Homo sapiens: one gene and its partner. Each later gene encodes a partner of the first gene's protein in a complex. Each region holds a gene or a part of one and is shown in the gene's direction. Other genes may lie near its edges.

Evidence for each region.
Region 2: CAPZB (region 1) and CAPZA3 share a complex: the UniProt entries of both Homo sapiens proteins name them as parts of the WASH complex.

The regions. Positions count from the first base shown.
Region 1 is NC_000001.11:19,338,275-19,342,835, reverse strand, and holds the end of CAPZB (F-actin-capping protein subunit beta), read left to right. Parts: coding exon of another isoform or gene 1-74; exon of another isoform or gene 75-84; intron 85-3,218; coding exon 3,219-3,306; 3' UTR 3,307-4,061; downstream 4,062-4,561. UniProt on the Homo sapiens protein: F-actin-capping proteins bind in a Ca(2+)-independent manner to the fast growing ends of actin filaments (barbed end) thereby blocking the exchange of subunits at these ends.
Region 2 is NC_000012.12:18,733,315-18,739,836, forward strand, and holds CAPZA3 (F-actin-capping protein subunit alpha-3), read left to right. Parts: upstream 1-4,804; 5' UTR 4,805-4,954; coding exon 4,955-5,854; 3' UTR 5,855-5,874; downstream 5,875-6,522. Other genes in the region: PLCZ1 (1-phosphatidylinositol 4,5-bisphosphate phosphodiesterase zeta-1), read right to left, coding at 2,907-3,030, 4,047-4,057. UniProt on the Homo sapiens protein: F-actin-capping proteins bind in a Ca(2+)-independent manner to the fast growing ends of actin filaments (barbed end) thereby blocking the exchange of subunits at these ends.

The DNA.
Region 1 (4,561 bases):
AGTTTAAGCAGTTGCAGAGGGAGCTCTCTCAAGTGCTGACCCAGCGCCAGATCTACATCCAGCCTGATAATTAAGCCGATCCAGGTACCCTGCCTGAGAGCCGCGAGACCCTCCCCACTAAAACAGGACTCACCAACCCGCCGAGACCCTGCCGGTCCGGCTGCTGCTCCGCGGCCATTTAAACCACCACTAACCCCCACGTGTGCTCCCGGTCGGTGCACAGCCACATTCCCGTGTAGCCTCGGCCCCATGTAACACGGCACCTATCACGTGTGTGTGCTTTCCACTCTGGGTGGAGGCTGGGTGTGGGGAAGACGGCTGATTTTTTGGCTTTTGCTTCTGAAGAAGCCCAGGCCAAGGGACGGATGCTGCCTCTCCAGCAGCAGCCACTTGTGTGCACCGGCCTGACTGTCCCCAGGGCAGGGATCTGCCTGCCGTCCACCCCCCCATGCTTCAGAGGAGCCTCTGATGCTGGTGCAGGGATCCCAGAAGCCACATAAGCCTCCCCGCTGCTCAGCGGCACATTGCCTGTCCAGGGCTAGCTGGCTTGGAAGGGGTGACCTCACTCTCTGATCTCTGAGTCTCTGGGGTTGGAGGGCAGAGTCAGGGCTGGACTCCACCCTGGCTGGCCCAGATGCTCTGCTGGAGCTGCCTGGACGCCCAGTGCCGACTCGGCCACAACCAGCATAACCTTCCGCCCCTAACGAGCTGCAGCTGTTCCTTTAAACAGGTTTCGCTAATGGAAAGGAAAATAGTCTTGCTTGTTGGTAATGGCCAAGAACCATGACTTGAGCTTGTGACAGATCCAGATGTAGGGAAGGAGGCAGCATCCCTGGAGAGTAGGAGGGAAACTTGTTTGTAAAAAGAAGGCATTTGGAACCCTGCCAACTGGGGCTGCAGAGCCCAGGTCCAGGGGCTGCGCACTGAAGGCCCACCCCAGAAGGGGTGCAGCAGACTTTCCAAGGTGGAGGTGGGGTCAGGCACTTAGAAAACCAGGTGGAGCTGCTTTTCCGAGGCCGTGGGACTTAAGTGCACCAGTCTGGTCTGTGTGTGCCAACTTAAGGCCCACGACTCGGGTCAGCCTCACAGTGTGGCCATCAGGCATTTCCATCATGGCATTGAGAAAAAACTCTTTTTAAGATACACCGTGATGGTGCAGTTCCCTGGCCGCCCACTGGGGGCGTCCTGGCGTAGAAACCCTGGCAGCCAGGTCTGCTCAAGATGACTCCTCCCTCCCACAGAGTCGAGCACTGTCTCCAAGCGCTGATTCGAGGTTGCTTGGCCGTGACCTTCCCAAGCATTGTCCCTTAAATAAGCCCCCTGCTCCTTCCGCCTTCCACCATTTCACTTCTAACTTCCTGTGTCTAACATGATTCTAGCTCTGGAACTTTCTCCTTCGTGTGATCCAGCCAAGACCTGGCGGGCTTGGCTCTTCCTTCCCAGAAGAGCCAGTGACCACCCAGGCTAGAGGTCCTGTGCGCTGCTGCTTTGCCCGCCGCATCTCCCGCTGGCCATGTTGACCTCCCGCTGTGAGCTTGGCAAGAAGCCCCTGGGGAATCGGCTGAGATTTGGAGCCTGGGGGCCGTGGGGGCTGATGCCTTTGGCCGCCGCAGAGCCAGGGACAGTCCTGGGAAGATACTCAGAAACGTGTATTTCCCCAGCATGAACCAAATGTCTGCGTTTCTCCTGGGAGTTTTTTCAGTTGTATGCAGCTTGCTTCCAGGTCTTGTCTTATGGCACCTGCTGAGTATTTTGAGGGCTCTTCCTGTGACTTGTAGGGATTCGGTAGCCAGAACTCAGTCTGGGTGCTGTTGCTTCTCCTGGGCCCTGCTTCACTTCCATTTGCCCATTTTTGCTTCTGGGGATTGATTTTTCTGATTCTTCCTTCCCATGGCTGGTGTGAATCAAACGTGAGAGTCCGGCTGAGTGCACTCTCCGTAGCACTCTTCTTGAGCAGCCCTCTACCCACTCTTTCCACTGCTTCTAAACTGTTATAAAACCTACATTTAGGAAGTCTTTGCCTAACCAATATGTTGGGTAAATTTGACAAAATGATTAAAGAATTGCTAGGGGGGCATTCCTCTGAGCCTCAGTTTCCTCATCTGTAAATTGGGTTGATAGCTTTTTTCTTTTTTAAGCCTTGACTTCGCTTTTTGTTGTTGTCGTTGTAGAGATGGGGTCTCACTATGTTGCCCAGGCTGGTCTTGAACTCCTGGCCTTAAATGATCCTCCTGCCTTGGCCTCCCAAAGTGCTGGGATTACAGGCTTGAGCCACCACATCCGGCCGGGTTGATAGTTGAGACTTCCCCAGGATGCCCGTGAAAATTAAATGAGATAATATATGTGAAAGGCGTTTTGTAAACTGTGAAATCTCCATAAGCCTTCATTGTTTCTGGCTTTGTTGATGAGCGTCCCCACACATACGTGAATGCGGTCGCCCTGAACGTTTCCCCACAAATCCAGAATTTGACAGCAGGGATCCCAGGGGCACTTGGCTGTCCTGTGCCGCCCTTTGCAATCCGGGCTGAGGGGTTTTCTGGGCCAAGTTAACAGCGGATGGTGCCTCACAGCAGAGGCCTGAAAGCACCTGCTGCGTGGGCCATAAACACAGTGTGCTCAGACACGCAGAGACACTGGTTCTTACCCACTCCCAAGGGTGGGATAACGCTGCACCTTGCACTTGTGGGATGAGGAATGAGGCTCTTCTGCTGGGCAGGGCCTGGGCAAGGGAGAAGCTTTTATAGAGGAACCCGCATGGCCCCGGAGTCCTCCCCTCTTAGCCCCTGGCCTGAGTCCCCAGCCAGCAACCCAGGGTAGCTGTTCTGAAGCAGAGGGGCTTTGTTCCATTGTGTTTGGAAGCCCAGAAGCCACCTTGTGGCTTAGGGTGACATAGGGACCTACACACAGAGGAGTGAACTTAGGGTTCTAGGGACTATGGCCGGGTCACCGGTGGCCAGGGGCAGAGATGAGCACCTGTCCATGTAAGCCATATGCCACCCCCACAGGGCCTGGCAAGGTGCAGAGGGTGCAGGTCTCGGCCATGTACCCCTTTGCCCCTTTCTGAGAGGGGCAGATGCCCAGCCCAGTGACCCAGAGCCTCACCCCAGGAAGCGGGTCCATGCAGCAAATCAGCCAGGCACTGGCATGGTGGCCCCCAGGCCTCCACCGCCTCACCAGTCCCTGTTCAATCTGCTGATAACGCCTTTCCTCCCTTGCAGGTCTGTGCAGACTTTTGCAGACAAATCAAAACAAGAAGCTCTGAAGAATGACCTGGTGGAGGCTTTGAAGAGAAAGCAGCAATGCTAAACCTCTGTTTCATGCTAACCAGACACGCCGTGCACTCGTTAGATTCCTTTCTTAGAAAACTCGTTTTCTGCTCCCTTCCCTCGTCCCTTCCCTCCCCGACAGGTCACATAACAGCTGCATCATTGACCGCACAGCGCCATCTCTCCCTGAGAATAAAGCCGATAGCCACCCTCCTCCGGCTCCGAGCCTGCTTCTGCCACACCTCGCTCTCAGTTCTCTCCACATTTCCATAGAGACCGTGTGGTTTTTGTTCACCCGGGCCCCCCGTCTTCCTCCCTGTCCCCCCATTTATAGGCATAAAATCCACTGTCTGCCAGCCTCCCTTCCCTCCCACCTTTTTGGTACATTGGTGTAAAAAATGTAAAACAAAAAAATTTTATGAACTAACTGTGGTGTGTGAAAGAGAGAAGAAAAACTGGAAATCTTATTCCGTGTGTGTTTGGGAGTTGCTTGGGGTTGGGGGTCGTGGGGACAGGGGACAGCTCTGGGAGCAGAGGTGGCCCTCGGTGCCGTCCTGCGCAGACTCTCCCGTCCCACGGAGGCCGCGGGGTGGGGGCTGGGGGGGGTGCCGCCGACCGTTCCGCTCTTCCGGCCAGGTGCTTTTCTGTCAATTTCTATGGAATGCAAAAGGAGGTTTTTGTTTTATTTTGTTTTTTTGTAAAGCTTAAGAAAAAAATCTACATCTTATACTTGAGCCTCCATACTTAAAAAAAGAAAAGAAAAGAAATCAATAAAAAGAAACTGGGGCGCAGTTAGCGCTGGCCTTCTGTGTTCCTTCTCGCCGGCCTCGCTTTCCGAGCGCGTGTGGCCGTGGCCGTGCGCTGGCTCCAAGCTGGGACGCGTGTGGGCCCCGCTCACGGCAGCAAGGAAGTGTCCCGTCCCCAGCCCCGCCGCCCTGAAAACACCAGGTATGTGATGAGGTGCAGAGTCCCTGTCCCTTTCCGCCCTCTGCCGTTGGAGGGCAGAAGCACCAGCAAACACTGTTCTGGCGCCGCAGCACGCACCTCCCGCCGCCTTCCCACTGTGCCTAGTACAAATGTGAGGCAGCCGAGGTTCAGTTGCAGTAACTCAGCCAAGGCTGCACAGAGCCACAGAGTCTGCCTTCTACCCTCCAAACTGCCCCAGGGAAGATCTGAAGCAGATCTCAAAGTCCCTGCCGAGACCATCCCCCCATCTGTCCGTGGCCAATCAGCGGGCTCCACAACCTGGCCAGCCCATGTGTTTGAGGTCCCTGGGTCTGATGCAACATCTTTTT
Region 2 (6,522 bases), on another chromosome or scaffold:
TCTATGGAGTTGTGGGATTCAATTTTGGATACTATCCCTTATCAGATATGTGGCTTGCAAATATTTTCTTTTATTCTGTAAATTGGCTTTACATTTTTGTTGATTGTTTCCTTTGCTGTGCAATAGCCACTTTGTTTCATGTAATCCCACTTTTCTATTTTTAGACAAGTTTTTGTTACCTGTCTTTGTTTCAATCCCTTTGGAATCATATCTAAGAAATTCTTGCCAAGCCCAATGTCAAAAAGCTTTTTTCCTATTTTCTTCTATGAGTTTCATAGTTTCAGGTCTCAAGTTTAAATCTTTAATGGATTTTGAGTTGATTTTTGCATATGGGGTAAGGTTAGAGTCCAATTTCATTTTTTACATGCGAATATCCAGTTTTCCCAATGCCATTTATTGGAGAGACTATCCTTTCCCCATTATGTATTTTAGTACCTTTGTAGAAGATCAGTTGACTATATATGAAGGGGTTTATTTCTGGGCTCTCTATTCTGTTCCATTAGTCTACATATTTGTTTTTATGCCCCTACCATACTGCCTCAATTACTGAAGTATTTTAAATACATTTGGAAACCAAAAATTGTGATGCCTCCACCTTTATATTTCTTTTTTAAGATTGGTTTTGGTTATTCAGGGTCTTTTTTGATTCCAATATGAATTTTAGGATTGTTTCTTCTGTTTCTGTGAAAACAAAACAAAAATGCCATTGGGATTTTAGTAGGGATTACATTGAATCTATAGATCACCTTGGGTAGTATGGATATATTAACATGGGATGTGTTTCTGTTTATTTGTAACTTTTAAAGTTTATTTCATCAGTGGTTTACAGTTTTGGTGTGCCAGTTTTTCACTTCCTTGGTTAAATTTATTCCTAAGCATTATATATTTTTTAATGCTAGTGTAAATGAAAATGTTTTCTTGATTTCTTTCTGGATAGTACATAGTTAATGAATAGAAATGCAACACATTTTTACATAGTAATTTTGTATCTTGCAACTTTACTGAATTTAATAGTTCTAGTAGTTGTTTTTGTTGTTGTTGTTGTTGTTGTTGTTTTGAGGACTCTCGCTCTGTTGCCCAGGCTGAAGTGCAGTGGCGCAATCTCAGCTCACTGCAACCTCTGCCTCCCAGGTTCAAGCAATTCTCGTGCCTCAGCCTCCTGAGTAGCTGGAATTACAGGCGTGCACTACCACGTCTGGCTAATTTTTGTGTTTTTAGTAGAGACGAGGTTTCAACACATTGGCCAGGCTGGCCTCGAACTCCTGACCTCAGGTGATGCACCTGCCTCAGCCTCCCAAAGTGCTGTGATTACAGGCATGAGCCACCACACCCGGCCTTGTGGTAGTTTGTTAACAAAATCTTCAGGAGTTTCTACATGTAAGATTGTGCCATCAGTGAATAGAGATAATTTTGCTTCTGCCTTTTTAATTTAATTGCCTTTTATTTTCATTTCTTGACTAATTGCTTTGGCTAGGATTTCCAGTACCATCTTGAACAGAAGTGGTGAGAGTGGGCATCCTTGCCTTTTCCCAGATCTTAGAAAAAAATCTTTTCAGTTTATTTTATATGATATTAGCTGTAAGCTTTTCATATATGGACTTTAATGTGTTAAGTTCCTTTTATACTTAATTTACTGAGAGTTATCATGAAAGGGAGTTAAATTTTGTCACATGCTTTTTCTATATTTTTGAGATAATCATGTGATTTTTATCTCCATTCTGTTAATGTGGTGTATCACATTGATTGATTTCTGTATGTTGAGCCATCCTTGCATGCCAGGGACACATATTATTTGGTCATGGAATATGATCCTTTTAAAGTGCTATAAATTTGATTTGCTATTATTTTGTTGGGGAATTTTGCATCTATGTTCATCAGGAATATTGGCCTAAAGTTTTGTTTTCTTGTGGTGCCTTTGTCCAGCTTTGGTATCCAGATGATGTTGACCTTATAAAATAAAACTGGAAGTGTTCCCTCTTCTATTTTTTAGAAGCATTTCAGAAGGATTGGTATTAATTCTTCTTTAAATCTTTGGTAGAATTCACCTGTGAAGTCATTTGGTCCTGGGCTTTTCTTCGTTGGGCAGTTTTTGATTACTGATTAAGTCTCCAAACAGGGTCTCACTATGTTACCCAGGCTGGTCTCAAACTCCTAGCCCCAAGTGATCCTCCCACCTTGGCCTCTCAAAGCATTGGGATTACAGGTACAAATCACTGCACACAGCCTCTCAGTCTCCTTTTTGTTATTGGTCTGTTTAACCTTTCTAGTTCTTCTTGGTTCAGTCTTGATGGGTTATATGGTTCTTGAAATTTCCCTTTTTTTTCTAGATTGTCCAATTTTATGGTGTATGATTGCTCTATGTGTTTTTCATTTTTGTGAGATCTGTTGTAATGTCTCCACTTTCATTTCTGATTTTATTTGACTCCTCTCTCTTTTTTCTTACTCTAAGTATTTGTCAATTTTATTTAACTTTTCAAAAAAACAAGTCTTAGTTTCCTCAATTTCTTCTAATTTTTTTCTTTTCTATTTTAGTTATTTCTGTGCTAATCTGTATTATTTCCTCCCTTCTGCTAACTTTGGGCTTATTCTCCACTCTTTTTATAAATCACTAACATCTAATACAGTTACCATTATCAGTCTGATATAATTAGACATCCAATCCTAGGTTTAATGTTAGCATTTCTGTATGCTCAGGAAATTATTCTAAACTGATATCCTGGTATTATTTCAGATTTTCTCAACAACTAATTTTACCTTCTACTGAAATGCTCTCCATCTTGATTGTAAATATAGTTAGTATAATTAATTGCTTTTCTTCTTAAGAGACTAACCTTTATATGACAATTACTGACATTGGATTAAGTTCCACCTAGGATAGGATAGGCAGGGGGTGGATGTCATCTTACCTTAAAAATCTGTTTCACATGAATATAACTGCACCGAATATCTAATTTTTCAAGTAACCTCTGAGTTTTTTCTAGGTTAATTTTTCCACCTCTGAAGTCATCCTGAATCTTTGACAAAAACCATGTAGAAGCACAAAAAAGTTAAGGAAATTCTCACAGAAAGTCATTGAATATTTAAAATTCCTAAAGAAACATTTGATTTACTGTATTATTTTTATTTTTAAAGAATATGTTTAAAGTAAATTATAGTATAATTGTATGATAAATATTTTTTAAAAAACAAAATTAAGTAGTTACTATGCTATGGTAAAGGTATGAAAGGGCATAGCACAGTAAAAATACAAAAAAAAGAATTAAAGTTAAAATTTGAGAATTGAAGTCATTACTTAGAACATACATTAAAACATTATAACAATCTATTGCCTGAAGGCATGAAGTTGGAAGGCAGCTAGACTTCAAGATCGCCTCTCACCTGACCTCTCTGTTTTAGTTCTCTCTTCCAGAAAGGTGAGCAAATTAACCCTGAATCTTAAGGAAAGTGGAAGCATTAGATGAATTCCTAATATGCCACCGAACACAGTTTCTGCTACTTAGTGTTCAATAAATAGTAACCATGACTGATAAAGTTATTATTACTACATTAGTCCAATGCCCAGCTACACACACACTCAAGACAGTACCATCAAAAAGCATCAGAAATACCATGGTGAGTGTATATTTGGTATGAAAAACGAAAAAAATTTTTAAAAGCTTACTTATCATAGATAAACTACAAAAACTAGGACACTTCCATTTGAAAAACTAAGATCGAAATGAGATAATGACAATTATCACTAAAATTATAAAAGGTATAGGTAAAAATTGTGCAAAACTACTAAGTTTCAGATTGTTAGAACGAATTAATGAGATCTCCTTAAATTTAATAGTTATGACTTAATCCAGCAAAGCTCATGTTCTTGTAAGAAAAAGATACCAGAATGCAGGGAAAGTTAGAAAAGCTCAGAACAAACAGGGAAAAGCAGTTCAACTTAAATGAAGAGGACTTAAATTCAGAACTCCTCGAAAAGAATAACAGCATCAAGTAAAGAGGATAAGTAGGAGAAAGAAGAAGAGGAGCAGAAAGAAGCTCTCAATGGATATCTCATTTCCATAGTTTCATGACCTGTAGAGCCGTTTCTCCTCACTTAGAAGTCTTTCCCCAGTAGGTGCTGTCATGGGTTCCAAATACAATTAACTCTGCCCCTTTGCAGAAAATAATTTCTTGATACTCATCAGCTGTTACCACTTTTCTAGGGAGAAAGCAGAGAACACACAGTGGTTTTTTTTGCCTTCGTTCTTTGAAGCTAGCTCACACTTAACCATAGAAACAGTATGCAAGATGTGGTACCTGCACTACCCTGCCCTTGAAACTGTTTGGCTTCTTACGTTCTGACCACCTCCAAACCCACAATATTTGAAAACACAGCTTTCCCTGATGTCTGGCATTTTTCCATGAACTGCCATTGTATCTCCTTTTATTTTTTACTACTTTGTTTAAACCCCTCAAACCTTTCATCATAATATGCTTCCAGTGGGTTTGGGCAGCTACTCTGAGAGCCTGAGTATAAATCAACACCATTGTGATTCCTGAAGTTGCAAAGTGCTGTCACTCTTGAAACTTTGGGCTGCTTCTCTAGATCGTTGACAACATATAATGCACACAGAGACACACCACTTTCGAAGAAGACTGTTCAGGAGGCTAAGTTCTTAAAATCTTCAAAAGAGGTATAGCTGGTTGGCTGGGCACCACACTGTCAGGTGACTGTCATTTTTTCCTTTTGGTCTGAATTCCCATTGTGATATCATCAGAGGTTCCACACTTCACAAGGAAAGCTTCTTATGACCTCATCAGGAGGCTCAGACCTTGCCAGACTGCCTGCTTTCATGGATAGACATAAAAACCTTCAGCTTGAATGTTAACACCTTGATGGGAAAGGTGGCTCATGGAATGTTTTCTTATCCTTTGAACACTCCTCATTTCAGAAGCTTTGCTTCTGTTGCAACCAAACATGACACTTAGCGTGCTGAGCAGGAAGGACAAGGAAAGAGTAATTCGCAGACTGTTATTACAGGCCCCTCCAGGGGAATTTGTAAATGCCTTTGATGATCTCTGTCTGCTTATCCGTGATGAAAAACTTATGCACCACCAAGGTGAGTGTGCAGGCCACCAACACTGCCAAAAATATTCTGTACCACTCTGCATCGATGGAAATCCAGTACTCTTGTCTCACCACAATGTAATGGGCGACTACCGATTTTTTGACCATCAAAGCAAACTTTCTTTCAAATATGACCTGCTTCAAAATCAGCTGAAAGACATCCAAAGTCATGGTATCATTCAGAATGAGGCAGAATACCTGAGAGTTGTTCTTCTGTGCGCCTTAAAACTGTATGTGAATGACCACTATCCAAAAGGAAATTGCAACATGCTGAGAAAAACTGTCAAAAGTAAGGAGTACTTGATAGCTTGCATTGAAGATCACAACTATGAAACAGGAGAGTGCTGGAACGGACTTTGGAAATCTAAATGGATTTTCCAAGTTAACCCATTTCTAACCCAAGTAACGGGAAGAATATTTGTGCAAGCTCACTTCTTCAGGTGTGTCAACCTTCATATTGAAATATCCAAGGACCTGAAAGAAAGCTTGGAAATAGTTAACCAAGCTCAACTGGCTCTAAGTTTTGCAAGGCTTGTGGAAGAGCAAGAGAACAAATTTCAAGCTGCAGTCTTGGAAGAATTACAGGAGTTATCCAATGAAGCCCTGAGAAAAATTCTACGAAGGGATCTTCCAGTGACCCGCACTCTTATTGACTGGCACAGGATACTCTCTGACTTGAATCTGGTGATGTATCCTAAATTAGGATATGTCATTTATTCAAGAAGTGTGTTGTGCAACTGGATAATATAAAGAATTGCTCCTGGTAACTATCTTGATTTGACTTGTTTGTGTTTCTTGGGAATGGTTATTTTCCTAAAATTGAGCAATCTGTAGAGATGTCTCTCACTTAGCCAATGCAAATTTAAATGGGAAAAGTGTAGCAAGTAATTTTACTTGGGGAATATTTATGAACAAGGCAAGAAAGTGTAAAGTAACTGTGTTTCATGGTGGTGACCATCATAAAGACCAAGACATTTGTTAGAAACTAAAATAGTTTTATAGAATCTGGGATTCCAGAAATAGTATAGAGGTGGCCAGGGTTAAGGCTGTGTGTGGGTGTGTACGTGTGTGTGTGTGTGTGTGTGTGTGTGTGTGAGAGAGAGAGAGAGAGAGAGAGAGAGACTTTTGACTGTTTCGAACTGAAAAGGTATACAAATGAATATCACTCCACAAATGATATTTTACATAACTCAATTCAGTCCTAGACCATCCACGAGATGGGGAATTTCAATAAAAGACATTAGGTTTGGATTTTCCACAAAACCAACAGATATCAAAAATCTAGCTCAGATGAAGGACTATTAGTAATTTTGGCTCCTCTTCCACTCTACTTTCTTCCCCTCAAGAATTGGGGTTACTCAAAATCCCTGGCTTGTCTGATAACTAACATGGTCTTCCAAGCCAACCAGAGAAGCCTG